Regions from separate parts of the Homo sapiens genome. Here all the other regions are linked to region 3. The links come from fine-mapping of genetic effects on gene expression. A gene starts in region 3. Each other region holds a variant in brackets. All regions are shown on one strand. Distances are from middle to middle. Region 1 holds the start of LOC107987417 (a long non-coding RNA gene). Region 2 holds the start of ARHGDIG (Rho GDP dissociation inhibitor gamma). Region 3 holds the start of RAB11FIP3 (RAB11 family interacting protein 3). Region 4 overlaps RAB11FIP3 (RAB11 family interacting protein 3).

Region 1 (7,525 bases), 66 kb after region 3:
AAAATATATTCGGGCCAGGCGTGGTGGCTCACGCCTGTAATCCCAACACTTTGGGAGGCCGAGGTGGGTGGATCACGAGGTCAGGAGATCGAGACCATCCTGGCTAACACGGTGAAACCCCGTCTCTACTAAAAATACAAAAAATTAGCCGGGCGTGGTGGCGGGCGCCTGTAGTCCCAGCTACTCGGGAGGTGGAGGCAGGAGAATGACGTGAACCCGGGAGGCGGAGCTGGCAGTGAGCCGATATTGCACGACTGCACTCCAGCCTGGGCGATAGAGCCAGACTCTGTCTCAAAAAAAAAGGTAAAGAAACAGATTTATTTATTTATTTTTTTTTTTTGAGACAGGGCCTTGCTCTGTCACCCAGGCTGGAGTGTAGTGGCATCATCACTGCTCACTGCAGCCTTGGCCTCCCAGGCTCAAGCGATCTTCCCACTTCAGCCTCCCGAGTACCTGGGACTACAGTCGTGCGCATCCATGCCTGGGTGATTTAAAAATGTTTTTTGCAGTTGAGGCCTCCCCCTGTTGCCCAGGCTGGTCTCAAACTCCTGAGCTCAAGCCATCTGCTCGCCTTGGCCTCCCAAAGTGCTGGGATTACATGTGTGAGCCACCGCATCCAGCCCACTTTTTTTTTTTTTTTAAACGTGGCTCCCAGGACTCACGTGTGGCTTGTAGCACACCCTATGGAAAGCACCTTCCACACCCTCAGCTCGGGGGTGCCCTGGCCTTCAGTCAGAAGACATCATTTCTGTTTTACTTTGCAGGCCTCACCCCCATGGCCAGTCTGTCATCACGGTGATCGGGGGCGAGGAGCACTTTGAGGACTACGGTGAAGGCAGTGAGGCGGAGCTGTCCCCAGAGACCCTATGCAACGGGCAGCTGGGCTGCAGTGACCCCGCTTTCCTCACGCCCAGGTAATGACGCCTTGTTCCAGCACACCCTCCTCCCTCTTCTTCCCGTGGTTAGTAGTGGGAAGTTTCCCTTTTTGGTTCGTGCATTGGTGAGAGAACTTGCTTTCCTTGACGTCATGTGATTAAGTAAACCATATTCAAACATTTTAAATTTATACCTGGATTTATGAAAGTTGGGAGAAGTCCCTCTTCTCCAGCCACATCCCCAGATCACTCTACATTTCTGAGGCTTCAGCAAAATCCTGTGGCACAGAGCTGTGTTTGCACACTTGGCTTGCGGGCTCCTTTGCTGTGGGCCGTGGATCACATGGTGGTCTGTGCAGGCTTTTGAGGGAGGCCTCATGATCATAAGTGAGTCTTCAGATTCATTTCCTTATAAATATCTGACATCCCCAAACTGGAAAGCTGTGACTCTGAATAAATAGAAGCACAACACGCAGTGGGCGAGATGCCCACTCACAAATGTCCAGAGTCACTCTAGGGAGTCCAGAGTCCTCTTGGCTTGGATCCGAACATGGGGGTCTGGGTACGTACTTCTGAGGGCTAGGGGCTCCCACGTGGGAGTCAGTCCCTCTAGGACGCTCCTGACTTCAGGGAGACCCTGGGCTGGCCGATGGGGTTGTTACTTCAATCCCTTCTCCCCTTTGCTACTAGGTTGTCGTCCATCTTTGCCAGCAGTCAAGGCCGAGCCTCTTTAAGCAGCCACAAGAGTCTTCCCTTGCCTGCTGCCCGCCCGCTGTTACTGAGGCCCAGGGAACCTGGGTGGAGGGCGGTGCAGGAGGGGCTGAGCAGCTCGTCTGCCCATAGGGTCCCCCTCCTTTTGTTTCCCATGTGCCCTCCTTGAAGCCGCCCGTCAGCCCTGGGTGTGGGGACCCTGCACGGATATCCTGTGTGCTCTGGTCCCGGCGAGCGTCCTGGGAGAGCTGTGCATGAGTGAGGCATCACAGACGGTCCTCAGAGGCAGTGTGCTTGTCTTAGGCACTTTCCTCTCCCAGCGCGTGGTGGTGTCAAGACAAGGGCCAGAGGACTGGGGCGTTTCTAAACTTGGGTCTCTGTGCTTGGTAATCACCTCTTCCTACGTGTTTAGTTTGTCCCTGTCTCCTGTTCAGTGTTTTCATTGTTACCTGTTTGAAGTGTAATGTCTATGCTACATTGTATGTTTCACTTTTCACCTTTCTTTACTTGAGCTTCCAAATGGTTTCCCACAGCATGTGGGTCCCAGCGCCCGCGATGAGGCTGCCTTTGCTCCTTTGCCTTCGCGTCGCAGACGCAGCACCCCTGCCAGTGGCCCAGAAGCCCTTGGAGGTGAAGTCACAGGGAGGTTAGCTAGCACCACCACAAAATCTAACACTGAGTTTCGACAGGTCGGTCTTTTTGGGGGTTTTTTGAGACAGGATCTCACTTTATTGCCCAGGCTGGAGTGGTGCAATCATGGCTCACTGCAGCCTCCACCTCCCTCAGCTTCCTGAGTAGCTGGGACTACAGGTATGAGCTACTACGCCGGGCTAATTTTGTATTTTTTGTAGAGACGGGTTCACCATGTTGCCCAGGCTGGTCTCAAACGCCTGAGCTCAAGCGATCCACCCAAAGTGCTGGAATTAGAAGCAGGAGCCACCATGCCCGGCTTTAACGCACATCTTAAAAAATCACAAAACTATTGTAGATTTATCATTCATGCATAGTTTTTGCTAGAGGTGGTTTTTGGAGTAATCATAAATATAGTACAGTAAGTACAAGTTTACCCGGAGACATGGTTCGCTATCACATTGATGTGTTTTTGGCAAAAGAGAAAGCAGTATGGTTTTTTACCTTCTTGTTAAAGAAGGGCTTTTGCTTTGCAAGGAGGCTCTCAGGCTGCCCCTGCTTTCTTCTGGGCACCCGACCCAGAGGAGCAGGTGTGTGCAGGGCCCCCTGAGGCTCGAGCTGGTGCCTGTCCTGGGCTCCTGGAGGCAGCTGAGGGATGTGGGCTCACTGCGGTCTAAAGGCAAGAGCCAGAACATTGCACAGCTCATTCTCTCTCCACGTGCTTTTGTTCCACACCATGTCCTGTCCTGTTCCCCTCGGCCCCTCGTGCGGAGTCACAGATGACCACACGGGTCCTCATCCTCTCCTGAACGGATGCTTCTGTCTCTCTAGCACTGACCCTCTTGCCGCAAAGCTGCACAGCATCCTCACTGATGAGGCGTTTGAGTTTTACTGTAGCCAGTGCCACAAACAAATCAACCGCCTTGAGGATCTTTCTGCCCGCCTGAGTGATCTTGAAATGAATAGGTAACTGACCAGCGCCTGGCCTTGCTGTCTGTTCCCAGGGTGTGGGGGACTCCGGATACCCACAGCCCCCTTGAGGGCCTGCCCCGAGGCGACCAGGAGCCTCTCAGGCAGCGGGACTCTCCCTGGGGCCCCGCCTCCCACCCTGCACGCTGTGGGGCCACCAGGGCCCTGCCTCCTCCCCTGCATGCGCAGCCCAGGCCAGTGCTTGTCTTGGTGGGAGGAAGTGATCGGTCTTTGCAAGCTGTGCTGTCTGTCCTGTGTGTGAAAGAGGATACTTTCTGCATTTTACTAAAAGATTTCTTTCATTGAGCTCATGAGACAGAATTGGGAAAGTTAAAGATTTAGTCTTTAAGAACAGATATGTAAACAGCTTTCAGGATTGTCAGTTTAAATGGAGTTTTGAATACTCACAGTGAGCGTGTGAGGGAGCTCACTGTGTCTCAGCAGGGGAGCTCTTGTGGCTGGCCCTCATGTCTAACTCCCAGTTACAGAAGACGGTTTTGA[G/A]TGCTTTGCACATATTGACGTGCCCGTTGGGCATCGTGTTGATTTCGCTTGCGGTGAAGCCCCTGGGTGGGCAGCTCTCCAGAAGGGTCTGGTGAAGAAACGGGCCACTTTGGAGCTTTCCACAGCAGCCCTAGCCTAGCAGAAGAGGTGAGTGAGCATACAGGCTCATGCTGGCAATCTGGGACGGCTTCCTGAAGAACGGGACCTGGCCTGTGGGGAGGGTTTGTAAAGGTGGCAGAAAGGTGAGTTATCCTGACGGTTCTAGCATGTTTAGAGGTATCTGTGAAACTGCTTACCTGTCTTGAGCCTGCCCTGTCCCTGCCCCAGGGGGCTTCTGCCGAGGCACATCCTTGCTGGCGGGCGCTCACTGCCCACGGCCTTATTGAGGCTTCTGTCCTGCCTCTAGTTCCATTTCCAGGGCACTTAACTCTTCTTATGTTCTGTGAAATGCTGTGAAGCACAGGGCCCCCAGCCAGTGCCCATTCAGGTGGAGAGGATGGGGGTGGGGCCCGGCACTGATGGCCATTCTGGAGCATCGGGGGTCTTGGCAGCACTGGTGAGAAAGCAGAAGTGCTCTTTGAAGAGGGTCTTCCCGGGAGACCCGAGGCCGCCCAGAGCCCTCCCCGGGAGACCCGAGGCCGCCCAGGGCCCTCCCCGGGAGACCCGAGGCCGCCCAGGGCCCTTCCCGGGGAGACCCGAGGCCGCCCAGGGCCCTCCCGGGAGACCCGAGGCCGCCCAGGGCCCTCCCGGGAGACCCGAGGCCGTCCAGAATCTTGGATTCCAAAGATCCGCTAACCTCTGTTTTAGGGGAAATCAGTTTCTGCCTGCGTGTGTGTTCAGCTAGGGGTTCAAGGCCCGGCGACGATGGCTCAGCCTGCTTGGGGAGGGGCCATTTGTTCTTCCCACGCAGAGACTTGCCCTCCCACTCACCGATAAGTTGAGTGCAAGCATGTCATCTCCGTACATGAAAGTAAGCCTGAAGACTCAGGTCTCGTCTCTCATTTTCTGAAGATTTTTGACATAGAACTGATTTTTTCCCACATTGAGAACTAGCTCCAAGATGGCCATGGTCGCCTCTGCTGGGCTTTGTGGGGGCAGAGAAGGGACTAGGATGTAGCTAAGTACAACTAGCAAGTCCTGTGGAGCCTCACGTCCAGGTTCTGCTACCCCTTTTCCTAAGACTCTATGAAGCGGGCCAGGCGCAGTGACTCACGCCTGTAATCTCAGCATTTTGGGAGGCTGAGGAGGCAGGCAGATCACTTGAGGCCAGGAGTTTGAGACCAGCCTGGCCAACATGGCGAAACCCTGTCTCTACTAAAAACATAAAAATTAGCCAGGCATGGTGGCACATGCCTGTAGTTCCAGCTACTTGGGAGGCTGAGATGGGAGGTTCACTTGAACCCAGGAGGTGGAGGCTGTGGTGAGCCAACATCCTGCCACTGCACTCCAGCCTGGGCAACAGAGCCAAACTCTGACTCCAAAAAAAAAAAAAAAAAAAAGACTCTACCAAGTGGTTAATATGCTATTCAATTCAACACAATCAGGACACACAACTGCCAGTCAGAACATCCTCCCCATAACCCTTAGTGGAGGAGATCTGAATCTTGCGTTTTAGTTTCCATGGACTTGCCTGAAAGTAAGCTTATTTGGTCATGCTTTGTGGGTGGCAACAGGTGACTTAGTCCAGACCACCTCTGGAAGCTTTGATGTCAGATACGATGTCCAGTCGCCTCAGAACAGGCCAATAGCTGTTGCATTTTCCAGGTACCCTGCAGCCTCTAAATACATTTCATTTTGTAGGAACTAAGAAGTGTGCCTTACCTGGAGGTATATTTTCTTTTTTCTTTTTTTTGAGACAGAGTCTCGCTTTGTGACCCAGGCCGGAGTGCAGTGGTGCGATCTCGGCTCACTGCAACCTCTGCCTCCCGGGTTCACTCCATTCTCCTGCCTCAGCCTCCCGAGTAGCTGGGACTACAGGCGCCCATCACCACACCTGGCTAACTTTTGTATTTTTAGTAGACACGGGGTTTCACCATGTCTCAATCTCCGGACCTCGTGATCCGCCCGCCTTGACCCCCCAAAGTGCTGGGATTACAGGCTGAGCCACTGCACCCAGCCTGCCTGGAGGTATATTATCTTTTTCTTTTTTGAGACAGAGTCTCGATCTGTCACCCAGGCTGGAGTGCGGTGGTGCGATCTCGGCTCACTGCAACCTCTGCCTCCCGGGTTCACTCCATTCTCCTGCCTCAGCCTCCCGAGTAGCTGGGACTACAGGCGCCCATCACCACACCTGGCTAACTTTTGTATTTTTAGTAGACACAGGGTTTCACCATGTCTCAATCTCCGGACCTCGTGATCCGCCCGCCTCGGCCTCCCAAAGTGCTGGGATTACAGGTGTGAGCCACCGCACCTGGCCACCTGGAGGTGTATTTTCAATTATAAATCCTGTTGCTGGGCTGCCAGTCCAGGCCCTGAAAGGTCAGTAGGTAAACTGAACGATGAGTCTGTCCTGTCCTATTAGTTCTAGGGAGTCTCAACAATAATAAGATAAAATTAAATTTGTATTAAGGCTGGGTGCGGTGGCTCATGCCCGTAATCCCAGCACTTTGCGAGGCTGAGGTGGGCAGATCACGAGGTCAGGAGATCGAGACCATCCTGGCTAACACGGTGAAACCCCATCTCTACTAAAAATATAAAAAATTAGCCGGGCGTGGTGGCGGGCGCCTGTAGTCCCAGCTACTCGGGAGGCTGAGGCCGGAGAATGGCGTGAACCCGGGAGGTGGAACTTGCAGTGAGCCGAGATCATGCCACTGCACTCCAGCCTGGGTGACACAGTGAGACTCCATCTTAAAAAAAAAAACCTGTATTAAAATATACATTATTAGTCTCCAGTCGAGAAAGGAGAGCCACACAGTAATTTGAACAGGGACAGTTTAATACTACAAAGAATGGGCTGAGTGTGGGCTGAAATCGCAGTGCTTTGGGAGGCTGAGGTGGGAGGATCACATGAGCCGGGGAGGTCGAGGCTGCAGAGGTGGGAGGATCACATGAGCCTGGGAGGTCGAGGCTGCAGAGGTGGGAGGATCACATGAGCCGGGGAGGTCGAGGCTGCAGAGGTGGGAGGATCACATGAGCCGGGGAGGTCGAGGCTGCTGAGGTGGGAGGATCACATGAGCCGGGGAGGTCGAGGCTGCTGAGGTGGGAGGATCACATGAGCCGGGGAGGTCGAGGCTGCAGAGGTGGGAGGATCACATGAGCCGGGGAGGTCGAGGCTGCAGCGAGCTGTGGTTGCACCACTGCACTTCAGCCTGGGCCACAGAGTCATACCTTGCCTCTAAGAAAAGATAATGCAAACAAACAAACAAAAAATTTAAAAAATCATTAGGGAAAGGAAAAGAATGTCACAGGCTATGGGAGTAATGAGGCACTGGTTGGGATGAGTAAAAAGAACTCTGCAGAGTGTAGGGACAGCAGGCACAGGAGCAGCCGCCACCCAGGGCCGGGGCAGAGCCCCCCAGCTACAGTCACTGCCACCCAGGGCTGAGGTCTGCACCAGCTGCAAACGGCGTGGTGGGGACACCACCGTGCTGTCAGGGCTTGTGGGGAACCTGCCTCCTGGCTGCCAGGAAAGCTATTCTGTTGCAGGACACTTGGCAGAGGCACCCCTAGAGAACAGCTACCCGAATGGGGTCGGGGAAGCCCCTGGCTCTGGCTACAGTGGGCAGGATGCTCCCTGGAGTAGGTACTGGGGAGACTGCAGGTGTCGGAGGGCCCTGCAGAGAGTGGTCAGAACCAGGAGGCAAACCTCTTCCTGCTGTGTTCACTCCTCGGCTCCCTCT
Region 2 (7,525 bases), 150 kb before region 3:
TGAGCGCGGGGCCGCGGAAGCGGGCGAGGGCGGGACGAGCCGGGCCTCCTCTCCCCTATGTGCTCCCCACCCTTGCACAGCGCGCTCAGCAGGGCTCTGAGAACTGCCAGACTCCAGGAAAACCCAGGCCTAGGCCACCAGCCCAGTGACCCCAGGGCCCAGTGGGAGGCAGGGCGCTCACCCTCCTCCGAGACGCAGAACTTCTGGGCCAACCACTGCACGACGTCGCTGCCTGCACGGGAGAGACAGAGGTGGAGGGAGGCCGAGGCGCGCACGCACCCCCGCCCCGGCGCGCCTCACCTGTCACCGCGTGGGGAATGACGGTGACCAGCAGGCGCTGGCTCCGCATCTTCACGCCCTGGTCGGGGTCCTGCATGCTCACGACCACCCGCTCCATCTGGGCGGAGGGAGTCGTCAGGGGGTGTCTGGCCGCCCCGCAACCCTGATTCCCTGGCACCGGCCGGGATGCCCCGGATCCGGGAGCGCGGAGATTAACGCGCGGCGGCGGCGGATTCCAGGCCGCAGCTGGCGGCGGGGACGCGGGGCGGGCCGGGGAGGGCCGGGGAGGGCCGGGGAGACCCCGGAGACCCCCAAGGGCCCCAGGCCTCGCCGCCCCTCCCGGCCTCGCAGACCTCCGCCCCAGGCCCGCCCCGCCCCGCGCGCCCCCGTGTCCCCATGCTCTCCGGCCCCTCCCGGCCTCGGGCGCCGGGAAATCGGGGGACGGCGGGACACCCACCCGCCTCGCACCTTCCTCAGATGCGGCATCTGCGCCCGGGGGCGGCCGGGGGGCGGCGCGGGGCCGGCGGCCATGGCTGCGGGGCGAGGCCGGCGGGGATGACCGACGTCCCGCCCGGCCCCGCCCCGCGCCGCGCCGCGCCCGGGTTAACCCTCGGGCCGCGAGGCCAGAGTCGCCCAGGCCCCGGTTCGGGTTTTAAGAGACACGGCCACGGCCCAGAGGCAAACGAGCCGGCCCCCCACGAGCGACCCGAGTCACCCCCCCGACCCAGGTCCCGGGACGCTGAGGCCCTCGTGGGTGAAGGCGAAGTGGGACGGGGGAGGGTGTGGGCCGGGGGCCGAGGGGGGATGTGAGGGGATGGAGCTCAGCTGGAGCAGGGGGTGGTCTCTGGGAGAGGCAGAGGGGCTCATCAGCGAGGGGGGGTTACTATGGGGAGGGTCTCAGGGAGGGCAGCGGAGGGGATGGGGGTTCAGAGAGGGAGAGGGGTTCCGTGAGTAGAGGAGACCCGTAGGGAGAGTGAACTGGGGTGGGAAACGTGGTTTAGGGCCCACTGTAACCCCGGTCCTATGTGTGGGGCCCTGAGGACATACAGGGACTAGAGGCCTGGCTGTGGGGCCGGGGCCAGGGCCAGCGGTATGACTGCCCGAGGCCTTGTGTCCTGCGATGCTTGTGGCCAAGACTGCATACATTGCTGTGACGGTGGCTGGTTAGGGGCAGGGTGCATGAGAGATTGGGTCAGCTTTCTACATGGGCCGGATGCCGGCTGTCAGTGGAGCACGTGGCTGCTGCAGAGTGTGACCCAGCTGTCCCCATCTCCTGCTGTGGGTCCCTTATCCGGGGTCCTTCCGGGAAAGTGGCTGATGGCTCATGGCTCACTTCCCTCAGCTCCACGCAGGCCTGGGTGGCCCGCTGGGGAATGAGCAGAAACCCTGCCCAGGGCACCCTGACACTGTTGGAGAGGAGCTTTACTGCAGGGAGGCCCTCAACACACACCCACTTAGTGTCACCGGCGGCCGCCAGGCTTCAGGCCCCACTCCACTCCCAGCTCTCTCCCTCCTCCAATGGCTATGCCTGTCCCCCAGGTGCACCCCGAGCCAGGCCCAGGATCTTCAGGCCCCACCGGGCAGTCTCGGCTCACTGCAACCTCCGCCTCCTGAATTCAAGCAATTCTCATGCCTCAGCCTCCTGAGTAGCTGGGATTACAGGCTCCCACCACCACGCCTGGCTAATTTTTATTTTTGTTTTTGTTTTTGAGACGGAGTCTCACTGTGTCACCCAAGCTGGAGTGCAGTGATGCGGTCTTGGCTCACTGCAGCCTCCGCCTCCTGGGTTCCAGCGATTCTCCTGTCTCAGCCTCCTAGGTAGCTGGGATTACAGGCACGCGCCACCACACCCAGCTAATTTTTGTATTTTTAGTAGAGATAGGGATTCACCACGTTGGCCAGGCTGGTTTCGAACTCCTGACCTCAGGTGATGTGCCTGCCTTGGCCTCCCAAAGTGCTAGGCTTATAGGTGTGAGCCACTGTGCCTGGCCGATTTTGGTATGTTTAGTAGAGATGGGGTTTCACCATGTTGGCCAGGCTGGTCTCAAACTCCTGACTTCAGGTGATCCACCTGCCTTGGCCTCCCAAAGTTCTGGGATGACAGGTGTGAGCCACCACACCCGGTCGGATCATTTTTTAAAAACTAAGTCGAGGTCTCACTATGTTGCCCAAGGTGGTCACAAACTCCTGGGCTCAGTCCATCCTCCTGCCTCAGCTTCCCAGCGTGCTGGGATTAAAGGCATGCCCAGCCAGCATCTTTTTTTTTTTTTTTTTTTTGAGACTGAGTCTTGCTCTGTCAGGCTGGAGTGCAATGGCGCAATCTCGTCTCACTGCAACCTCCTCCTCCCAGATTCAAGCAATTCTCCTGCCTCAGCCTCCTGAGTAGCTGAGATTACAGGCCCCCGCCACCACGCTTGGCTAATTTTTGTATTTTTAGTAGAGACAGCATTTCACCTTGTTGGCCAGGCTGGTCTTGAACTCCTGACCTTAGGCGATCTGCCCACCTCGGCCTCCCGAAGTGCTGGGATTACAGGCCTGAGCCACCGAGCCCAGCCTCAGCACCATTTTTAAAAGGTGCAAATGCATCTATTTCTGCTTGCTTTCTTTATTTTTTAAATTATTTATTTATTTATTTTGAGATGGAGTTTCACTCTTGTTGCCTAGGCTGGAGTGCAATGGTGCAATCTCGGGTCACTGCAACCTCCGCCTCCTGGGTTCAAGCGATTCTCTTGCCTCAGCTCCCAAGTAGGTGGGATCAGAGGCATGCGCCACCATGCCCGGCTA[A/AT]TTTTTTTTTTTGTTTTTTTTTTTGCATTTTTAGTAGAGATGGGGTTTCACCGTGTTGGCCAGGCTGGTATCAAACTTCCTGACCTCAAGTGATCCACCTGCCTTGGCCTCCCAAAGTGCTGGGATTACAGGCATGAGCCACCGCACCTGGCCACTAATTTTTTTTTTAATTTCATTTTTATTTTTGTAGATAAATATACACGTAGCCCCTCGCTTATCCCTGTCTGTAAGGGCCTCAGTTTCTTGCTGTGTTGCCTAGGCTGGCTGATCTTGAACTCCTGGCCTCAAGTGATCCTCCTGCCTCAGCCTCCCAAATGTTGGGATTACAGGCATGAGCCATGGCACCTGGCTATGTATTTATTTTTTGAGAGATGGCAGTCTCATTCTGTCACCCAGGCTGGAGTGCAGTGGTGCAATCATAAACTCATTGCAGCCTCAAACTCCTGAGCTCAAGTGATTCTCCCACCCCAGCGTCCTGAGTAGCTGGGACTACAGATGTGTACCACCGCATCTGGTCTATTTCTGCTTTCTTGGAGGCAGAGTACCTCTCCCCATCCTTACCCACTCAGAGGGTGCTAGGGGCTGGGCAGGGTGGGCGGTTGGCCTTGGGCTGGGAGCCCCTAACATAGTGGTCTGAGTCCATTTCCATTGCCGGAGAGGCCACGTTCAGCATGAGCTGGGGCAGGGGGCTTGTGGGGTCTCTTACTCCAGGGTACCATCTCGCTTGGATCCCAGTGAGCCCTCCCATGCCCCACACCCAGGTGGGGTGAGGTGGCCCAGGTCTGGCTGCCCTGTCTGCAGGGGTGGGCACCCATGGTAGCTGTGAGGCAGAATAGGGAATGAGGGTAGCCAAGGGTTGGGCATAAGAAACGGAACAGCAGGTGCAGCCAGTTCTAGGCAGGATTGGGCAGCTCACAAGCCACATCCTGGCTGCTGTGATAACAAGACAGAAATTTCCACTTCACCTCTGATTGGTCTCGGGCCAATCCTTCATAGGGTGTAGCCAATTGGAGGCCTCTAAAGGGCACAAGGGCTGTGGTCAGGTTTCTTTGCTTAATAAAAATCCTAATTACAGAGGCTCTGGAGCTACTTGCTCCAGCCCACTCCCACTCTGTGAATTGCCTTCCGTTAAATCTGTGCTTTCCTTACTCCGTTCTTCTGACTCAGTTTTGTTTCCTTGTGTTTCGTTGTTCTTTTGTTACTTTGTGCGTTTTGTTCAATTCTTTGTTCAACCCACCAAGAACCTGGACAACTCACCTCCAAGACCTTCTATCTGGTAACAGCTGCAGGAGCTGGAGCTGTGGGCCTGGGGACAAGTGTCCTAACAGCCCCCGCTCCCTGCAGCGAAGGGTCAGCAGAGGTGGCGCTCTAGGGGGGCCTGGGCACAAGTTCATAGGATCCTGCCCTGGAAAGGTTGTGGGCAGTTGGGGGGCAAGGGAGACAGTCCCCACCCAAACCCCAATGCCCCCTAGCACCCAAGGTGGTCTTCTCTCAATTGAGGAGCTCTTTGGCAAGGGCGGGTCTAATTTCTGGTGTCCCTGGAACCGGCCAGGGGTGTCTAAGAAAGGGACTCAGGCTGGTGTTCGGACCCCTTCTCCCTTATCCAGACGCAGGCCTTTGGTCCAGCTGTCCCAGCCAGGGCCTGCTCACCCCTGTCCCCTGCCGGGTCCCATCCCCCCCACCCACCCACAGGTCTCAGTTTAGGTGTCAATATCAGAAGCCCCCTCTGTGCTCCGGTCTCTGTACTCCGCCCCCTTGTCAGTGTCCTCTCCCTGAGGACAGGGGGCTCGGTAACTGGGTTTCCAAGAGCCCTGCAGGGACACCCCCTCTTGGGAACTCACACAGCGCAGCCAGGTCGCTAAGCCTTTGAGGGGCCCTTGTTGCCTCCTGGGTGTGCGTGCGACCCGCGCCCACTGTGGTCCCGCCCTACTGATGACCGTGAACCTGTAGGGTGTTGGGCCAGCCCCTCACCCCAAGGCTGGGCAGGCCCCCGGAGTCCCCCTCGGCCCAGACAGAAGCTCCCTCAGGAGCGGGGGAGGGGAAGGGGGCGCGCGGTCCGGCCCCAGGTGTGGCCGCGGATAATGAGACCCTGGGGATGGGGGCGCACCTGCGCCACGGCGCCCCGCAGAGGGTTTCCCAGGAGACCCCCTCGGGCTCCCGCCGCGCCGTGGGGGTGGGGCAGCCCTGCTGGCCAGAGCCGGGCACGGGCCGGGCGGGCGGCGGGGATCGTGACCGCGGCTGCGTGCGTCCGCGTCCGGGCGCTTCTGTGCGGGGTCCTGGCACGCCGGCGGGGGCGACCCGGGTGCCGGCCCGTGCGGGCGACACGCGCGTCTCTGCGGGGCTGCGCGGGGTCCGGAGCGGCTGGGGGCTCTCTGCCGGGCGCGGCTGGGCGCGGGGGGCGCTCCCGGCCGGGATGAGCTCACCGCAGTCGCGCCGGGGCTGAGCGCCGAGCGGGGCGGCGGCGGGGCGGGCGGCGGCTCCTCGGCGGCTCCGCGGCGCCCGGGCCGCGCGCCGCCATGCTGGGCCTGGACGCGTGCGAGCTGGGGGCGCAGCTGCTGGAGCTGCTCCGGCTGGCGCTGTGCGCCCGAGGTGAGCGGGCCGGGCAGGGGCGGGGGGCTCGGCTGGTCTCAGCCCCGGGCGGGGAGTAGCCCCTCCCCCGCGGCAACTTTGGGGGCGCGCATGGGGACCTCGCGGCGCCGACCCCCCGGCTGGGGTCTGGCAGGGGTGGGGGACTTCATCCAGGCTCCAGCCCTGTGGGGAAGGGACCAGGTGCGGACGGGTCGGCTTGGGAAGCGGCGGCGCTGGGACCCTCTCCCCCTGGACACCGCCGCCTGGAGCCCCTCTGTCTTGGGTGGGGCTGGGGCTGGGGCTCAGGCTCTGTAGGGCGTGTGGTGATCCCCGAGAAGACGGGAGCGAAGTGGGCAGGGACTCAGAAACCCCTGCCCAGGGCACCAGGGAGAGGGGCTTCAGGAGGCCACCAGCCCGGGGCGCCATGGGAGGCGGCGCAGAGCCTGAGCCCAGGGATTTGGAGACAGCCGCCCCCGGCACCCGAGCACCATGGGGAGGAACTCCTAGACTGTGGGAAAGTGTTCAGAGACCCCAGTCCAGAGCAGGGTGGTGGAGGGCCCTAGAGGGTCAGTAGGCTTGGGGGGCCGCCGAGGGCCCTAGAGGGTCAGTAGGTTTGGGGGCCGCCGAGGGCCCTAGAGGGTCAGTAGGTTTGGGGGCCGCCGAGGGCCGCTGCTCTCTAGCAGGTAGCCCCTGACCCTGGGCTGCCCTCATCTGAAGTCTTCGCTCCCCCGCCCTTTGGTCTCCGAGTCAGGGAGGGGGCCCTTGTGGACATCTGGGCCAGAGGAGCTGCAGGCCTGGCGGTCTCTGGAGGCCCCTCCTGAAGGTCTGGGTGCGGTGCGGCACCTCCCCAGGCCGCCCTGCTCTCTCTGCTCGCTCTCTCCCTGAGCCCCCAGAGGCTTCCCTTGAGTCCCTTTGGATAGTGGGAGGTACAGCTGGCCAGAGGGGGCTCCAGCCTGGTGCTCGAATGCCAGGGTCCGCTAGTGGCTGCTGCTCACGCCCCTCCCCACCCCCAGTCCTCCTGGCTGACAAGGAGGGTGGGCCGCCGGCAGTGGACGAGGTGTTGGATGAGGCTGTGCCCGAGTACCGGGCGCCGGGGAGGAAGAGCCTCTTGGAGATCCGGCAGCTGGACCCGGACGACAGGAGCCTGGCCAAGTACAAGCGGGTGCTGCTGGGGCCCCTGCCACCGGCCGTGGGTATGGCAGGGGTCTAGGCTTGGAGGGCTGGGTCTGGGGGGCTGGTGAGGAGCCTGGTGGGGGTGGGGGGCATCCTGCAGACTTCCAGTTTCTCCTCAGACCCAAGCCTGCCCAATGTGCAGGTGACCAGGCTGACACTCCTGTCGGAACAGGCTCCGGGGCCCGTCGTCATGGATCTCACAGGTAACTCGCAGGATGCTGCACCCTGAACACAGGTAGGGCCCTCCCAGGCACGCTTCTGCACCCCTGAGTTCCGAGCCCTGGGCCATCACAGTCGCACACCTCATGGGTACCACACCCTACGTGGGGGCTCCTGGAGCAGGTCTCAGCCTGTAGGGGAGTTCCGACCCTAGCTGAGGTTTCCCCAATAGGGGACCTGGCTGTTCTGAAGGACCAGGTGTTTGTCCTGAAGGAAGGTGTTGATTACAGAGTGAAGATCTCCTTCAAGGTGAGAGCCGGGGCAATGGGCGGAGGGGATGGGGGTGGGGGCAACAGCCAGAGGCCTGGCCCCCAGAGGAACCCCTAATGCCTCTGTTCCCAGGTCCACAGGGAGATTGTCAGCGGCCTCAAGTGTCTGCACCACACCTACCGCCGGGGCCTGCGCGGTGAGGGCAGCGGTGGGGGGAACGGGGCGGGGGGGGGAAGCGGGGGCAGACAGAGGACAGCTCTGATGCCCTCGCCCTCCCTAGTGGACAAGACCG
Region 3 (7,525 bases):
GTGATCTTGACTCACTGCAACCTCCACCTCCCGGGTTCAAGCAATTCTTTGCCTCAGCCTCCTGAGTAGCTGGGATTACAGGTGCCCGCCACCACGGCCGGCTAATATATACATATATTTTTTAGGTGGAGTCTCGCTCTGTCGCCAGGCTGGAGTGCAGTGGTGCGATCTTCGCTCACTGCAACCTCTGCCTCCCAGGTTCAAGCGATTCTCCTCCCTCAGGCTCCCGAGTAGCTGGGACTACAGGTGGGTGCCACCACACCCGGCTAATTTTTGTATTTTTAGTAGAGACAGGGTTTCACCATGTTTGCCAGGATGTTTTCGATCTCTTGACCTTGTGATCCGCCCACCTTGCCTCCCAAAGTGCTGGGATTATAGGCTGAGCAACCGCGCCCGGCCTAAATTTTCTATTTTTTAGTAGATACGGGGTTTCACCATCTTGGCCAGGCTGGTCTTGAACTCCTGACCTCGTGATCCACCCGCCTCGGCCTCCCAAAGTGCTGGAATTACAGGCATGAGCTCCCACGCCCAGCCCAAAAGAGACAATCTTTCTCCAACATGTGAGGACAGAGTGAGAAGATGGAGGCTATGCTTTGAATGTTTATACCCTCCAAAACGCATGTTGAGGCCAAGTGTGGTGACTCATGCCAATAATCCCAGCACTTTGGGAGGCCGAGGTGGGCGGATCACTTGAGGTCAGGAGTTTGAGACCAGCTTGACCAACATGGTGAAACCCCGGTCTCTACTAAAAATACAAAAAATTAGCCGGCCTTGGTGGCATACGCCTGTAATCCCAGCTACTCAGGAGGCTGAGGTAGGGGAATCACTTGAACCCGGGAGGCGGAGGTTGCAGTGACCAGAGATCGCGCCATTGCACTCCAGCCTGGGCGACAGAGTGAGACTCCATATCAAAAAAAAAAAAAAGATAATAAGGTGCTGCAGATCTGTGGTCTCAGCTACTGGAGAGGCTGAGGTGGGAGGATCTCTCTTCTATTTTTATTTTTTATTTTGGAGACGGAGTCTTGCTCTATCATCCAGGCTGGAGTGCAATGGTGCAATCTTGGCTCGCTGCAAGCTCTGCCTCCCGGGTTCACGCCTTTCTCCTGCCTCAGCCTCCCAAATAGCTGGGACTACAGGTGCCTGCCACCACACCTGGCTAATTTTTGTTTTTTTGTATTTTTAGTAGAGACGGGGTTTCACCGTGTTAGCCAGGATGGTCTCCATTTTCTGACCTCGTGATCCGCCCGCCTCAGCCTCCCACAGTCCTGGGATTACAGGCATGAGCTACCACACCTGGCCTAAGGTGGGAGGATCTCTTGAGCCTAGGAGGTTGAGGCTGCCGTGAGCTATGGTCGCACCACTGCACTGCAGCCTGGGCAACAGAGCAAAACCCTGTCTCGGGGAAAAAAAAGAAAAGAAAAGAAAAGAAGGAACTGCTACAGCCCACAGCCTACAAAGGGGACACAGATAGTAGCTCTGAACAGCAGACGGATAGACGGGAACTTGTCCCTTTAGTCTTTCATGAACAGCCTCTAACTGGTCCAGGCAGGGAGGTGCAGGCTTCCAGGCTGTGGTTCCATGGAGGACACCAGCCGGGCACGCAATGGACGTTTTCCAGCCCTAGCACAGACAGAGCGTGCGGGCCCCTGCTCTCAGAAAGCCAGCCTTCTGCCTCTGGCAGCGCCGGCACATAAAAGCAGAGGGAGCCTGCTGTCTCTGCCTCGCCCACACTAACACCCCTATTTAGAAAGGTTGACACATCACTATCACTGCTTCTGAAAATTTTATCCGGCCGAAGGCATCAGCCCAAATTTGAATTCTTGCCAAAGCTGCTGGTGATTTCGTTCTTTGAATGCAGTATCTTCCTCATGAACACGTACAGCTCTTACAAGAAAATGAGAATACGGTTTGGGGAGGAGGATCCCTCACATTCCTTTTCCTAATGCCAGCCTCGCGAAGTCTGGTCCCATGTACCCTGGGATTCTGCCACGGAAGATGACTCACTTAATTAACACGCTGCTCCTGACCGTACACTTGGAAGCAGAGGTTCCGTTCCTTTGGTTCTTGCCAAAGCTGCTTACGAAACCATATCTTGTGTTGGTGCCCATGGTGTGTAAAAATACAAGTTCATCATTTCCCTGATACAAATTATGACAGGCTAAATTTAGTGCCTCACCTGTCCTAACTAGCTTTCCCACCATCATGCCTGCCGCCGGGCTGTGGTCCTTTCTGAGGTCCCGTGTCCCTCTGAGGACAGGGACACCCAGACACAGAGGTCAGTTGTCAGACGCGGCCACGGTGCTCGGGAGGCTGGCTGCAGACGGGCGATTCACCCTGGGTGTCTTCTTGAGTCTTATTTTTTGTAGAGACGAGGTCTCGCTTTGGTGCTCAGGCTGGTCTCAATCTCCTGGGCGCAAGCGATCCTCCCGCTTGGGCGTGGGCCAGCGCGCCCGTCCCAACGCTGGGAGTCCCGGAGATCTTGGTCACAGGCTTAAGGGAAAGGCCTAGCGCGTGGCCGCGCGTGCCTCTGGTTTCAAGGGACATGGACTGCGTGTCTGGGGCCCCTCCGCACTCCGTGTCAGACCCTGCGTCCCCCGGGTCCGCGCGGGACCCGGGCAGGGCGTCGCCCTCTGCGGCGTCTGCGCCCCGCGAACCCTGGGGCACCTGCAACCCCTGGGCCGCGGAGCCAGGCGTGCGCCGCCTCCTGGTCTCATCAACGTGAGAACGCTTTACCCCCGAAGAGCTCAGCTCCTAGGGGGCTATGTCCCTTTGCGTCTCTCGCTCGCCAGGCGGTGCCGTTTACTCGACCGCACCATGCGTGGGTAGCGGTCGCGCCCGCTGGTAGCTGTGCGGCGGGAACACGTTCTAAGTAAGGCCTGACTCCGCGCGCCTCTTGCCAGGGACGTCACGTCACGCCTCCACTCGCAGCCTCGGAGCACCCCCGCGTCCCGCGCCCGAAGCTCGGGACCCCCGCTCTGGCGAAACGAGGAATATGACATACAGCAAAACACCCCTTCGCGGCCGCTGCACTGCCGCGACACACCCGGCGCCTGCCTCTACAGCAAGCCGGCGAGGGGCTGGGACCCCGCCGGGACGTGCTGACGTCAGGCCCGACGGGGGGCGGGGCCTGGGCGGCGGCGGCGTTAGTTCTCCGGGTACCTCAGGCGCCTCAGCCTCCTTAGTCTCCTCATCCTGCTTCACAGGCTCCGCGGCCTCCGGCCTCCTCGGCCCCCGTCCCCCGGCCTCCTCGGCCCCCGTCCCCCGCCATCCGCCGCCCGGATCCTCGCCGCCCTCCCTAGGCCGCCCCGCCGCCATGGGCCTGCGCCCGCCGCGCCGCCGGGCCGAGGGCAGCTGAGGCGCGGTGCGAAGATGGGCGAGGACAGAGCAGGGCCCGAGCGCCAGCCCCAGCAGCCCGGGCGCCCCGCGCGCGCCCGCCCGCGCCGCCGAGGGGATGCCCGCGCCCGCCGCCGCGCCCTGAGCGCCTTTGTCTGCCGCCCGCGCCCTTCCGCACCACTAGCCTCTCGGGAGCATGGCGTCGGCCCCGCCGGCCTCGCCCCCGGGCTCGGAGCCGCCGGGGCCCGACCCGGAGCCGGGCGGGCCGGACGGGCCGGGGGCGGCACAACTGGCTCCGGGCCCTGCGGAGCTACGCCTCGGAGCGCCCGTCGGCGGCCCCGACCCGCAGTCCCCGGGCCTGGATGAGCCTGCGCCCGGGGCCGCTGCAGATGGCGGGGCGCGTTGGAGCGCCGGGCCGGCCCCGGGGCTGGAGGGAGGCCCGCGAGACCCCGGGCCGTCCGCCCCGCCGCCGCGCTCCGGCCCGCGGGGGCAGCTTGCGAGCCCCGACGCCCCGGGCCCAGGGCCGCGCTCCGAAGCGCCGCTTCCAGAACTCGACCCGTTGTTCTCCTGGACTGAGGAGCCCGAGGAGTGTGGCCCCGCGAGCTGCCCGGAGAGCGCGCCTTTCCGCTTGCAGGGGTCCAGCAGCAGCCACCGAGCGCGGGGCGAGGTCGACGTCTTCTCTCCCTTCCCCGCGCCCACGGCGGGCGAGCTGGCGCTGGAGCAAGGTCCCGGGTCCCCGCCGCAGCCCTCGGACCTCAGCCAGACCCACCCCCTTCCGAGCGAGCCCGTGGGGAGTCAGGAGGACGGCCCCCGCCTCCGAGCCGTGTTCGATGCCCTGGACGGGGATGGGGACGGTTTCGTCCGCATCGAGGACTTCATCCAGTTTGCTACGGTCTACGGGGCAGAGCAGGTACGGAGCGGCCCGGGCCGGGGCGTGGGAACTGGGCAGGTGCGCGCTGGCCGGCGGGGTTGATGTGGGACCGGTCGACGCTGCCCCTGGAGTCGGGAAAGGCACTGTCAAGACCTGACGGTCCTGCTTTTTCTGCTTATTCACCACTTCGGCCCTGGATTTCTGGTTGAATTGCGCTGGAGTCCCTCTTCCCTTCTTAAAAGGAGGTTCTATTCTGGGGAGTCAGTTTCTTCCCCTCCCCCCAGCGCCTCGTCAGCTGGATCTTACCGAGGTCAGCTCCTCGCCTGGGGACACCCCCCCAGGGGGCCTGATCGCCACCCCCCCAGGGTGCCTGATCGACGTGCCCCTGAATGAAGAAGTTCCCCGCGATTCCCCCACCCGAGGGCCCAGATACTGCTCGGCTGAATTCACCCAAGTTCTAGCCGCAGAGGCCAGGCTGCCCAGACGCCTTGAGATCCTACTGATAGACACCTATTTTGAGTACAATTACTTTACTGTGTGTGGTTGACATCTTTTCTACTTAGATTTCATCTTTTATTTGGGAGACAGTCAATGCTTGTAGAGAGTCCTGGAATTAAGAATTTTTACTTTGGTGCCTTTGGGGAGGAAGGCAATGAGCCTCGGAGCTTGTTGGCAAATGCAGAAGTCTAGCAGAACTCCGTTAGGGCCACGTCCACTCTCGTAGGAGAGGTGAAATGCGTGGACAGGCACTACGCACAGTACAGTGTGGAAGGGGTCCACGCGGTCCTCAGGGCACCTGCTCCTGGGGGAAAGGTGGGCCCCAAGATGCAGTTGTTCCTGTCTACCTCAGCACTTAATAAAGTTTAAGTGGAGATAACAGCAGGGCCGTGTGTGTTCTGCCAATAACCCGGTGGACATCAAATAATACCAGTGCTCACTTTTAAATATTTTACTTAGCAGGAAATCCCTAAGGTGCATCTGTCAATTTTTTGTATTTTGACTTCTCACACATGCAGACATCTGGTAAGTGGGTGTTCAAGTACATATGCATGTTTAAGCCAAGAGGTCTGTAAGAAAAGAGGTAAAATTGGCACACTGCTATTTAGGGTGTCAGTCATAACATTAAGAACCTTGATGGTCGGGCGCGGTGGCTCATGCCTGTAATCCCAGCACTTTAGGAGGCCGAGGCGGGCGGATCACGAGGTCAGGAGATTGAGACCATCCTGGCTAATATGGTGAAACCCCGTCTCCACTAAAAAATACAAAAAAATTAGTCGGGCGTGGTGGCGGGCACCTGTACTCCTAGCTACTCGGGAGGCTGAGGCAGGAGAATGGCGTGAACCCGGGAGGCGGAGCTTGCAGTGAGCGGAGATCGCGCCACTGCACTCCAGCCTGGGCGACAGAGCGAGACTTCGTCTCAAAAAAAAAAAACAGCAACAAAACAAAAAACACAGGGTCCTGATAAATCAGGGTTCCTTGCTGAGTTCACATTAAGAAGATGTGCAGACAGGTGCGTGCGGGGCAGCCTGCAATGCTCGCAAGCTTAGCTCCGGTTGGGATATTGTCAGGGTAGTTTTCCACCTACACTAATGGGCAGTGAAATATGTGACTGATACTTTCCTGTATGGTCAGCGTGGATGGTGGTTGCTGGTCCAGGTGTTTTGCTGCGTTTCCTTCTTGCCCCTGGGCTGGAGAGCACCTTGAGCTCCCTTGGTTGCTGTTGGCTACTGCGCTGTCTCTTCTCCCAAACATACTCTTGCTTCAGTACAGCAAAGAAGTTAGGAGAGTACCACATTTGCTCCTTGTTACCATAACCCAACTCTTGATAGAGAACTTCTGTGAGGCTCAGGATGTTTCCACTGGATCATACCACAGTTCTCTGAGATAGTAGGTAAGCAGGATTCATCCCCACTTTACAGGTAAGAAACTGGAAACCCAGAAAGGTCAGATAGCTCTCCCAAGGTCTCACAGGAGTAGAACTAGGTCTTTTGGCCCTTAGACCTTAGATGCCTCTTCTTAGATGTGGTGGCTCACAATATCCCTATTGTGATAATATCTTACTGACTTTCATACAATTCTTTTTATTTGAGAAACATCTTTTGTCATAACCTCCCTTAATGATCACAATGGGAAAAACTTTGTGTTGCTATTTGGGGCTGAGCTTTCTTGTCATCACAAAGTAGAAATGAGACAAAATTCTTCACTCTGAATTCCAAGAGCTCTTGATGAAATTCGAAGGTTGGGGGCAAGGGCTGGATGACTTGGGATTTGGTGAGGATGGGGAAGTGGAAGGGATCTCCTGTGGTATTACTCCTTGTCTGTTCTTCTAGACGGCTTAGGAAGAAGCAATGTTGGGTGTGATCTGAGTGCCTGGACTTGGGCCGGCTTCCTGGGATGGAGGAGAGCTCTTGATTTCTTAAAGCTAAGTTACTGTTTGGCAACAGATAATTTACAGGGTAAAGAAAGGTTGATTTTCATGTTATGTAACCCTGTAGCCATTGCTCAGTTTTAGCAGTCTTGGTTCATCTGTAAACTCACCACTCACTACCCCCAGATGATTTTTGAAGTGGGTTCCTGACATTATATCATTTCTTCCATAAATGCTTCAGTATATATTTCCAAAAGATACCGATTCTTTTAAAGACATTAATGATTTTTTTAAAAACGCTAGGGAACAGTTCAGATTAACTGGATAACAGCAATAAAGGTCATAAGTTTTTGTACTTTCTACCTTGAGATTTCAAAATATTGAGCACATGAGAGACTCTTAGTCCAGTCACATTACTGTCCTTGATGATAACAACTAGATTATCTTAATTTTTTTTTTTTTTTGAGATGGAGTCTCGCCTGCTCTGTCGCCCAGGCTGGAGTGCAATGGTGTGATCTCGGCTCACTGCAACCTCTGCCTCCCGGGTTCAAGCGATTCTCCTGCTTCAGCCTCCCGAGTAGCTGGGATTACCGGTGCCCGTCACCACACCTGGCTATTTTTTGTATTTTTAGTAGAGACGGTTTTGCCATGTTGGCCAGGCTGGTCTTGAACTCTTGACCTCAGGTGATCCACCCGCCTCGGCCTCCCAAAGTGCTGGGATTACAGGCATGAGCCACTGTGCCCGGCCAAGTATCTTAATTTTTATCAAATTTTCAGAGGTAGCATATTGAGTATCTTCTATGTAATCTGTTTATGAAGGTAGCATTTTAAATTATTTAAATGGATTATCTGAATTTTTAATAGAAGCAGCTCCTGTTTATAATACAGATGGCTTTTGTGTCCCTGTTTCTTTAGCAATGTCATGGTGTGTTTGGATCTAATTACGTCATCTG
Region 4 (7,525 bases), 44 kb after region 3:
CCTCGGAGGAGCCCGATGCTCTGTCTGGGAAGCCTGGGGGCTGCCAGCTGTGGACTGTGGCTGCCTGTGGTTGCCGGTGTCTTGGCTTAGTGACTGAAGGGGTGAGAGAGTGATCGTCCAAGGACAGCCCATCTCCAGATGTTTCTTAGTGGTTGCCCAGCCACCTGACACGCCAAGCTGGGGCCTTCTCCCAGACACCGTCCCCTTCTCTCTTTGCTGTCACCTGGGCCAATCCCACAGCAGCTGGGGCACCCCGTTCTCCTTCCCAGCAGCTGACAGATGGGCCTGGGAGGGCTCCTGCGCCTGTCTGCTTGAGAGGGCGGTGAGCTAGTCATCGTGAGCCGGCCAGGGCTCTCCTATCTCACTGCATTAGAGCTTGAGCCAGGCTGGTGGAGGTGGCTGCAGCCGAGGGAGAGCACGGCTGGCACCTGTGAGGACCATGGATGGGGACACATGGGGCAACGGGCCCGTGAGTGCTGTCGAACCAGCCTGTTCCAGGCTCTGGGACGTAGCACGAAACGGCAGTGCAGAACCCCTGCCCTTGGGAGCTGGCTTTCTAGTGGGAGACAGACCACAAAGTAAGGCAGGAGCTAGGGAGGCAGAGGAGTGGGGAGGCCTCCCTGAGAACGTCTGGGATGGGAAGGCAGCATCCCAGCAGGGCTGCACCTGGCATGTTTGGAGGCCACAGGGAGGCAGGGTCAGAAGGAGCAGGTGAGAGGCAGGCCTCACAATTCTGTCTCCAGCTCCAGGCTCCTGAAGAGGATGGTGGGGCATCCCTGAGAGCTGGTGTGAGGGGTGGGACACTGAGCTGACTGCAGAGCTGACTGCAGAGTGGAGTGGGCGTCAGGGAGGAGGTGCAGTAGCCTCAGGGAGGAGGTGCTGGGACGTCAGGGAGGAGGTGCAGGGGCCTCAGGGAGGAGGTGCTGGGACGTCAGGGAGGAGGTGCAGGGGCGTCAGGGAGGAGGTGCGGGGGCGTCAGGGAGGAGGTGCAGGGGCCTCAGGGAGGAGGTGCTGGGACGTCAGGGAGGAGGTGCTGGGGCCTCAGGGAGGAGGTGCTGGGGCGTCAGGGAGGAGGTGCTGGGGCCTCAGGGAGGAGGTGCTGGGGCCTCAGGGAGGAGGTGCAGGGGCGTCAGGGAGGAGGTGCAGGGGCGTCAGGGAGGAGGTGCTGGGGCCTCAGGGAGGAGGTGCAGGGGCCTCAGGGAGGAGGTGCAGGGGCGTCAGGGAGGAGGTGCTGGGGCCTCAGGGAGGAGGTGCTGGGACGTCAGGGAGGAGGTGCAGGGGCCTCAGGGAGGAGGTGCTGGGGCCTCAGGGAGGAGGTGCTGGGACGTCAGGGAGGAGGTGCAGGGGCCTCAGGGAGGAGGTGCAGGGGCGTCAGGGAGGAGGTGCAGGGGCGTCAGGGAGGAGGTGCTGGGGCGTCAGGGAGGAGGTGCTGGGGCCTCAGGGAGGAGGTGCAGGGGCGTTGGAGGAGGTGCAGGGAAGTCAGGGAGGAGGTGCAGGGGCGTTGGAGGAGGTGCAGGGAAGTGAGGGAGGAGGTGCAGGGGCGTCAGGGAGGAGGTGCTGGGGCCTCAGGGAGGAGGTGCAGGGGCCTCAGGGAGGAGGTGCAGGGGCCTCAGGGAGGAGGTGCAGGGGCGTCAGGGAGGAGGTGCAGGGAAGTCAGGGAGGAGGTGCTGGGGCGTCAGGGAGGAGGTGCTGGGGCGTCAGGGAGGAGGTGCAGGGAAGTCAGGGAGGAGGTGCAGGGGCGTCAGGGAGGAGGAGGTCCTGGGGCGTCAGGGAGGCGGTGCTGCCATGGCATTGGACACATGGCCTCTGGGGCTGCGGGGTCTGCTTTACTTTTGAGTAATTTGATGTCATGATTTATGTTTCGTTCGGAAGGAGAGTGAAACTAGAATAAAACGAAGTCGAAGATGATTTTGGAATTATTTCATAGCATTTAGAAGAAAGGAAAATGTGATCATCCAAACCGCACTTCAGCCAAAGTTCACTTCAGGTGTTAGCTCCATCGTGGCTGCAGCAGCCTGTGTTGTCTGTCAGCCCTGTCTGCGTCGAGGAGTGACCAGCAGGATGTGCTGGCCTAGTTTGCTGGGAAGCACAAGGAGGCTTTCCTGTCACAGCCACAGGCCTTGTTTCAGGAATAGAATGAGATAGAGAGGGATTGTTCCAAATAGGCCATTGCTGTGTCTCACACACCCTCACGCTTTGGAAGAATAAGGGAAACGCACGTGAAAAATTCCTAATTAATTGAAAATTGTTTTAGTTTTTATAAGGAAAACTAATATGAGAATGGTATTTAGGTCCTACCAAGAATATAAAAATGCCATCTGTGTTCATATCCCCTGCTCCGCCCTCTGGGGCAAGACCCTCAGATTGTTTGCCCACTGTCAGAACCTGAGCTGTCATGCGCTGTGTCCAAAATGCTTCGCTGTATATTGAAAGTTTTTAGTTCTGTGTTTCAGTGTTTATAAGCGCAGGCAAGACTGTTAGCATTTTAAAATGTAATTTAATTTTTAATTTATTATTATTATTATTATTATTTTGAGACAGACTCTCGCTGTAGCCCAGGCTGGAGTGCAGTGGCGCGATCTTGGTTCACTGCAACCTCTGCCTCCCGGGTCCCGGTTCAAGCTATTCTCCTGCCTCAGCCTCCCTCCCAAGTAGCTGGGATTACAGGCACATACCACCATGCCCAGCTAATTTTTGTATTTTTAGTACAGACGGGTTTTCACCATGTTGGCCACTATGGTCTCGAACTCCTGAACTCGTGATCTGCCCACCTCAGCCTCCCAAAGTGCTGGGATTGTAGGCGTGAGCCACCATGCCCGGCCTATTTTTTATTATTTTAAATGTATTATTTATGTATTTATGAGACAGGGACTCACTTTGTCACCCAGGTTGGAGTATAGTGGCATGATCTCAGCTCACTGCAGCCTCCACCTCCCAGGCTCAAGTGATTCTTGTGCCTCAGCCTCCCGAGTAGATGGGACTACAGGCATGCCCCCACCACACCTGGCTAATTGTTTTTGTGGAGATGGGGTTTCACTGTGTTGGCTGGGATGGTCTAGAACTCCTGACCTTAAGTGATCCGCCCGCCTCGGCCTCCCAAAGTGCTAGGATTACAGGCGTGAGCCACCACACCCGGCCTTATCTTTATTTTTTGTAGACATAGGATCTTTGCTATATTGCCCAGGCCAGTCTTGAACTCCTGGACTTAAGCAATCCTCTAGTGTCAGTCTTCCAAAGTGCTGGGATTACAGGTGTGAGCCACCATGCCTGGTCTCCACTTTTCTTTTTTCTTCGAGACAGGGTCTTGCTCTGTCACTCAGGCTGGAATGTAGTGGTGCAGTCTTGGCCAACTGCATCCTCTGCCTCCCTGGCTCAAGCCTTCAGAGTAGCTAAGACTACAGGTGTGTCCCACAATGTCCAGCTGATTTTTTTCTTTTCTTTTCTTTCTTTCTTTTTTTTTTGAGATGGAGTCTTGCTCTGTCGCCCAGGCTGGAGTGCAGAGTGGTGTGATTTCGGCTCCCTGAAACATC[C/T]GCCTCCCAGGTTCAAGTGATTCTCCTGCCTCAGCCTCCCAATTAGCTGAAATTACAGGTGTTCGCCACTATGCCCAGCTAATTTTTACTATTTTTAGTAGAGATGGGGTTTCACCATGTTGGTCAGGCTGGTCTTGAACTCCTGACCTCAAATGATCCTCCTGCCTCAGCCTGCCAAAGTGCTGGGATTACGAGTGTGAGCCACTGCACCCGACCTAATTTTTGTATTTTTGTGGAGATGGGGTTTCACCATGTTGCCCAGGCTGGTCTCAATCACCTGGGCTGAAGCAATCCACCTGCCTCAGCCTCCCAAAGTGCTGGGATTACAGGCATAGGCCACCGTGCCTGGCCCCAACCTTCACTTTTAAAATAAGTGATTGACATTAGAATAGATTGTGTTAAAGGTATTAAGTAATGCTATTTTATAAGTAGCTGGTCTATTTTAGGCAAGTAGTTGAATTAATAGTGAGACAGTGTGAAGACACCTAAGTGTCTTCTGTCACTCACAGGCCCTGGAAGGTGCTTTGACCTGTGAATATCACTGAGACGCTGGAAGCCAGTGCCTTTTCCTACAGGAGGAGAGGCAGGTGCTGCGGGATTGGTTGTGTTTGCAAAGTGATGACTGTAGCTGACGTAAGAATTATAGCCTGTCTCTCATGAGAAGATAGCTTTTCCTTTAAAGTTTTTCTCATAGAACATTGATTATAGAAGATAAGCAAAAAAAGAAAATAAAATGAAAACTGCGCGTGAACCCAGCACCCAGGAAAAGATGTTGTTTTTGTATTATTTCATCATACCTACACCTTCTCATGTAAATGTTTTTAAAGGTTTAAATCTGATTGGTACCTAACACTTTTTAAAGGCCATGGACAGTTTTATGGAGCTCAATGTCTTGCTCTTTTTTTTTTTGCAGTGCTGTCTGCTTCTTTTAAGAAATAAAAAGTTTATCTCCTACCTCTGCATCTCCTCCTCAGAATTCTCTCCAGAAGCCTTGTTCCTGTGGGCAACGCATCTCTGACCCGTTGGCAAGGCTGTTTTCTCTCCCTGGATTTCTCATGCTCACTCCCTTGCTTGTCTTGACCCCCCCCAGGGCCCCCAACTCCCACACATCTGTCCCTGGGGGCCTCCTTCCCAGGGAGTCCCGAGGCCGCCAGGGGTCCCGTCACTGGGTGGCTATGGGTGGCCTGTTGAGCACGAGGTCTTCTCCCTGCAGATCCTGATGGCCAGTGCTACGGTGGTGTCGCTTCTGCCCAAGATGAGGAGCCCCTGGCCTGCCCGGACGAGTTCGATGACTTCGTCACCTATGAGGCAAGTGGTTTTCACCCAGGAGCTTGGGGGAAGTCTGGCATCCACCTCTTCCTTTATGCCCTACAGCTCGTGCCTCCTGCCTCCGGGCTGTCTTCCGTAGAAGCTGGCGTGAAGGAAGGGCCTCCCGCCCTGTGTGCACCGTGGGGCTCTGTGGCTGTGACGGGAGGCCCACAGTTGTCTGTCCCACACGCCCTGTCAGCCTGGGCAGGAATCCTCCCCCAGGGCCTGTCGCCAGCAGAAGTGGGGTGGGCAGTGATGTCATGACCACCCGCTGCCAGGCTGGCAGGCACAGGCGGAGCAGAGGGCTTGGGAGGATTCCTTTTGTCAACTTGCAAATGATTTTCTGTGTTTGGGGATGCCTGACTAATGCCTGCCCCTGCTTGGCTGTCCTCCACCCTGCTCCCAGATGCAGCCAGGGTTGTCATGGTGACGTGGCGTCTCCTGTGTCTCCTGTCACTGTGGGTCCCTTGTTCTCAACATAGCTGGGGAGAGGGTCTTCGAGCACAGCCGTGGTCGACAGAGCGTAACCATGTCCGCCGGTCTGGAGGGTTAGATTCCAGGAGAGCCACGTGGCTGCAGCAGAAAATGCATGAAGTTGAACTTGAGCCCTTGGGGGCCGCCGGGAAGGTGGAGGTGGCAGCCGCCAGTCCTGGTCAGCCTGCTGCCGAGCAAGGGTACCAGAAGTGGGGCTGAGCTGCTGGCCGGTAGGGCCTGGGCTTCTCATGTCAGTCCTCTGAGCCCTGACTCCTCGAAAGCTGAGGCTGGCACAGGGTAGTTTTTGAGTTGCTTTTGGACGCCACTGTACCGTGGGAGCCATGGTATTATACTCAGTTCCCTGTTCCGAGAAGCTGCCCCAGGGATTAGTCACCCTCACCCTTGGGTGGGCAGCTTAACTTCTGCCCACACAGACCCTGGGGGTGGTTCTGCCTTACGGCGGTGTCCCAGTTATCAGCTGGGCTGCAGCTTCTGGGGCCAGGGCGCCCACCGTGGGTCCCATGTTTGGCCTTGGTGTGCTCTTTCTGCACGTGAGGCAGCAGTGAGGTGCTGGCTAAGAGGGCGTGTGGTGGGAGTTGGACCCTCTCGCATGGCTGCAGTGTGCAGAACGTGCTGGGAGACCCCAGGACTACAGACGGTGGCTCCTGTGCCCTGAGAAGGACCCGGCTTCTTCACGAGGAGATGCCCAAGGCTCTGCAGGGTAACCCAGAGCCCTTGGTCTGCAACGTCCGGGGAACTGTGTGTTCCTGGGCGTTCATGTGCCTGTGCACTCTTTCTCACGTGTATCCGTCTTTTTGTTCCCCTCTCATGTTTGTTAGGGCATTGTTGATTGTTTATATCCTATGTATGGTGCAGTGGCTGAAGAGTGGCCTCTCAAAAGATATGTCCACCCAGCAGCTGTGGATGTGGCCTTATTTGGAAAAAGGGTCTTTGCGGATGTAGTTCATTAAGGATCTCAAGGTGATATCATGCTGGTTTGGGCCCTAAATCCAGTGACAGGTGTCCCTGGAAGACGGGAGAGACACACAGGGGGAAGACCATAGGAAGACAGGGCAGAGACTGACCAGAGCCAGGGAACTCCTGGGGCTCCCAGAAGCCAGCAGAGGCAAAGATGCATCCTCTCCGAGAGCCTTAGGCAGGAGCCAGCCCTGCTCACACCTTGGCTTTGGACTTCGGGCCTCCAGAACTGAGAGGATAAACTGGTGTTTCTTCACGCCCCGTGGTCTGTGCTAGTTCGTTATGGCAGCCCTGGGCAGGGAAACCTTGAGTGACGTTACTCGAGGCACCAAAGGCACCAGTGCATTTTATCCTTAAAGGCCCACGTGGTCTGAAGGGTGTGGCCGAGCCTCACGCTTGTCACTTCAGAAGGGTGGGAACCTGACATGTCAGAGCTAATCCTTCTCATATTTTTAGATCCTGATTTCTTTTTTAGAATGGAAGAAAGTTTTTTGACTTAAAAAAATGAATATGCTTCATGTTTTAGAGCAATTTTAGGTTTACAGAAAATGGAACATAGTGTAGAGCATTCCGGGATCACGTTACATGATTATTTGTTTTGTTTTGTTTGAGACGGTCTGCTCTATTACTCAGGCTGGAGTGTGGTGGTACAGTCTCGATCTTGGCTCACCACAACCTTCGCCTCCTGCGCTCAAGTGTTCTTCTTTCTCAGCCTTTCCAGTGGCTGGGACCACACTCAGTAACCACCACGCCCAGCTGATTTTTTGTATTTTTTTTTTGTAGAGATGGGGTTTCACCGTGTTGCCTAGGCTGCTCTCAAACTCCTGAGTTCAAGCGATCCACCCGTCTTGGCCTCCTAAAGTGCTGGTATTACAGGCGTGAGCCACCGCACCCAGCCTGATATGTTAGTATTAGCCAAAGTCCGTAGTTGAGGGTTCACTCTTGGTGGTGTGTATTCCGTGTTTTGACAGGTCCACGATTATAGTGTCACAGAGTCGATTCAGTGCCGGCTCATCCCTCACACCAGCCCCCACAACCACCGATCCTCCGTGTCTCCACAGCTCTGCCTCTTCCAGAACGCCACGGAGCTAGAACCATCTGGCATGCAGCCTTTTCAGATGCGCCTCTTTCCCTTAGTGAATACGCAGTTACCTCTCCTCCATGTCTTGCTTTGCTTTTTAAGGGTGGGATGTAATTTTCCACAAAGTGGAGTTCGATACTGTGAAACTTATGGA

Evidence for each region. PIP is the estimated chance that this variant, and not a neighbour inherited with it, causes the effect.
Region 1: its variant is fine-mapped to the expression of RAB11FIP3 in whole blood (TOPMed, PIP above 0.99).
Region 2: its variant is fine-mapped to the expression of RAB11FIP3 in whole blood (INTERVAL, PIP above 0.99).
Region 4: its variant is fine-mapped to the expression of RAB11FIP3 in whole blood (TOPMed, PIP 0.93).

What each region holds. Positions count from the first base shown.
Region 1 is chr16:488,087-495,611 of GRCh38, forward strand. It overlaps RAB11FIP3 (RAB11 family interacting protein 3), which reads left to right. Exons shown (of 14, transcript NM_014700.4): 5 at 765-914. It overlaps LOC107987417 (a long non-coding RNA gene), which reads right to left and starts at 5,454. Exons shown (of 3, transcript XR_007064933.1): 1 at 4,483-5,454; 2 at 3,983-4,239; 3 at 3,287-3,896. RefSeq lists enhancers at 4,217-4,838, 6,297-6,875, 6,876-7,453. The variant G/A (reference allele first, on the strand shown) is at 3,687.
Region 2 is chr16:275,102-282,626 of GRCh38, forward strand. ARHGDIG (Rho GDP dissociation inhibitor gamma) reads left to right here and starts at 5,490. Exons shown (of 6, transcript NM_001176.4): 1 at 5,490-5,652; 2 at 6,645-6,824; 3 at 6,924-7,007; 4 at 7,196-7,272; 5 at 7,366-7,429; 6 at 7,514-7,525. The coding sequence starts at 5,580. RGS11 (regulator of G protein signaling 11) reads right to left here and starts at 843. Exons shown (of 17, transcript NM_183337.3): 1 at 748-843; 2 at 301-397; 3 at 182-232. The coding sequence starts at 810. RefSeq lists enhancers at 108-759, 5,631-6,388. The variant A/AT (reference allele first, on the strand shown) is at 3,064.
Region 3 is chr16:422,478-430,002 of GRCh38, forward strand. It overlaps RAB11FIP3 (RAB11 family interacting protein 3), which reads left to right and starts at 3,172. Exons shown (of 14, transcript NM_014700.4): 1 at 3,172-4,243. The coding sequence starts at 3,530.
Region 4 is chr16:466,552-474,076 of GRCh38, forward strand. It overlaps RAB11FIP3 (RAB11 family interacting protein 3), which reads left to right. Exons shown (of 14, transcript NM_014700.4): 3 at 4,744-4,838. Among named protein-coding and RNA genes, the nearest start is that of RAB11FIP3, 45 kb to the left of the region's middle. RefSeq lists enhancers at 1-318, 319-947. The variant C/T (reference allele first, on the strand shown) is at 3,531.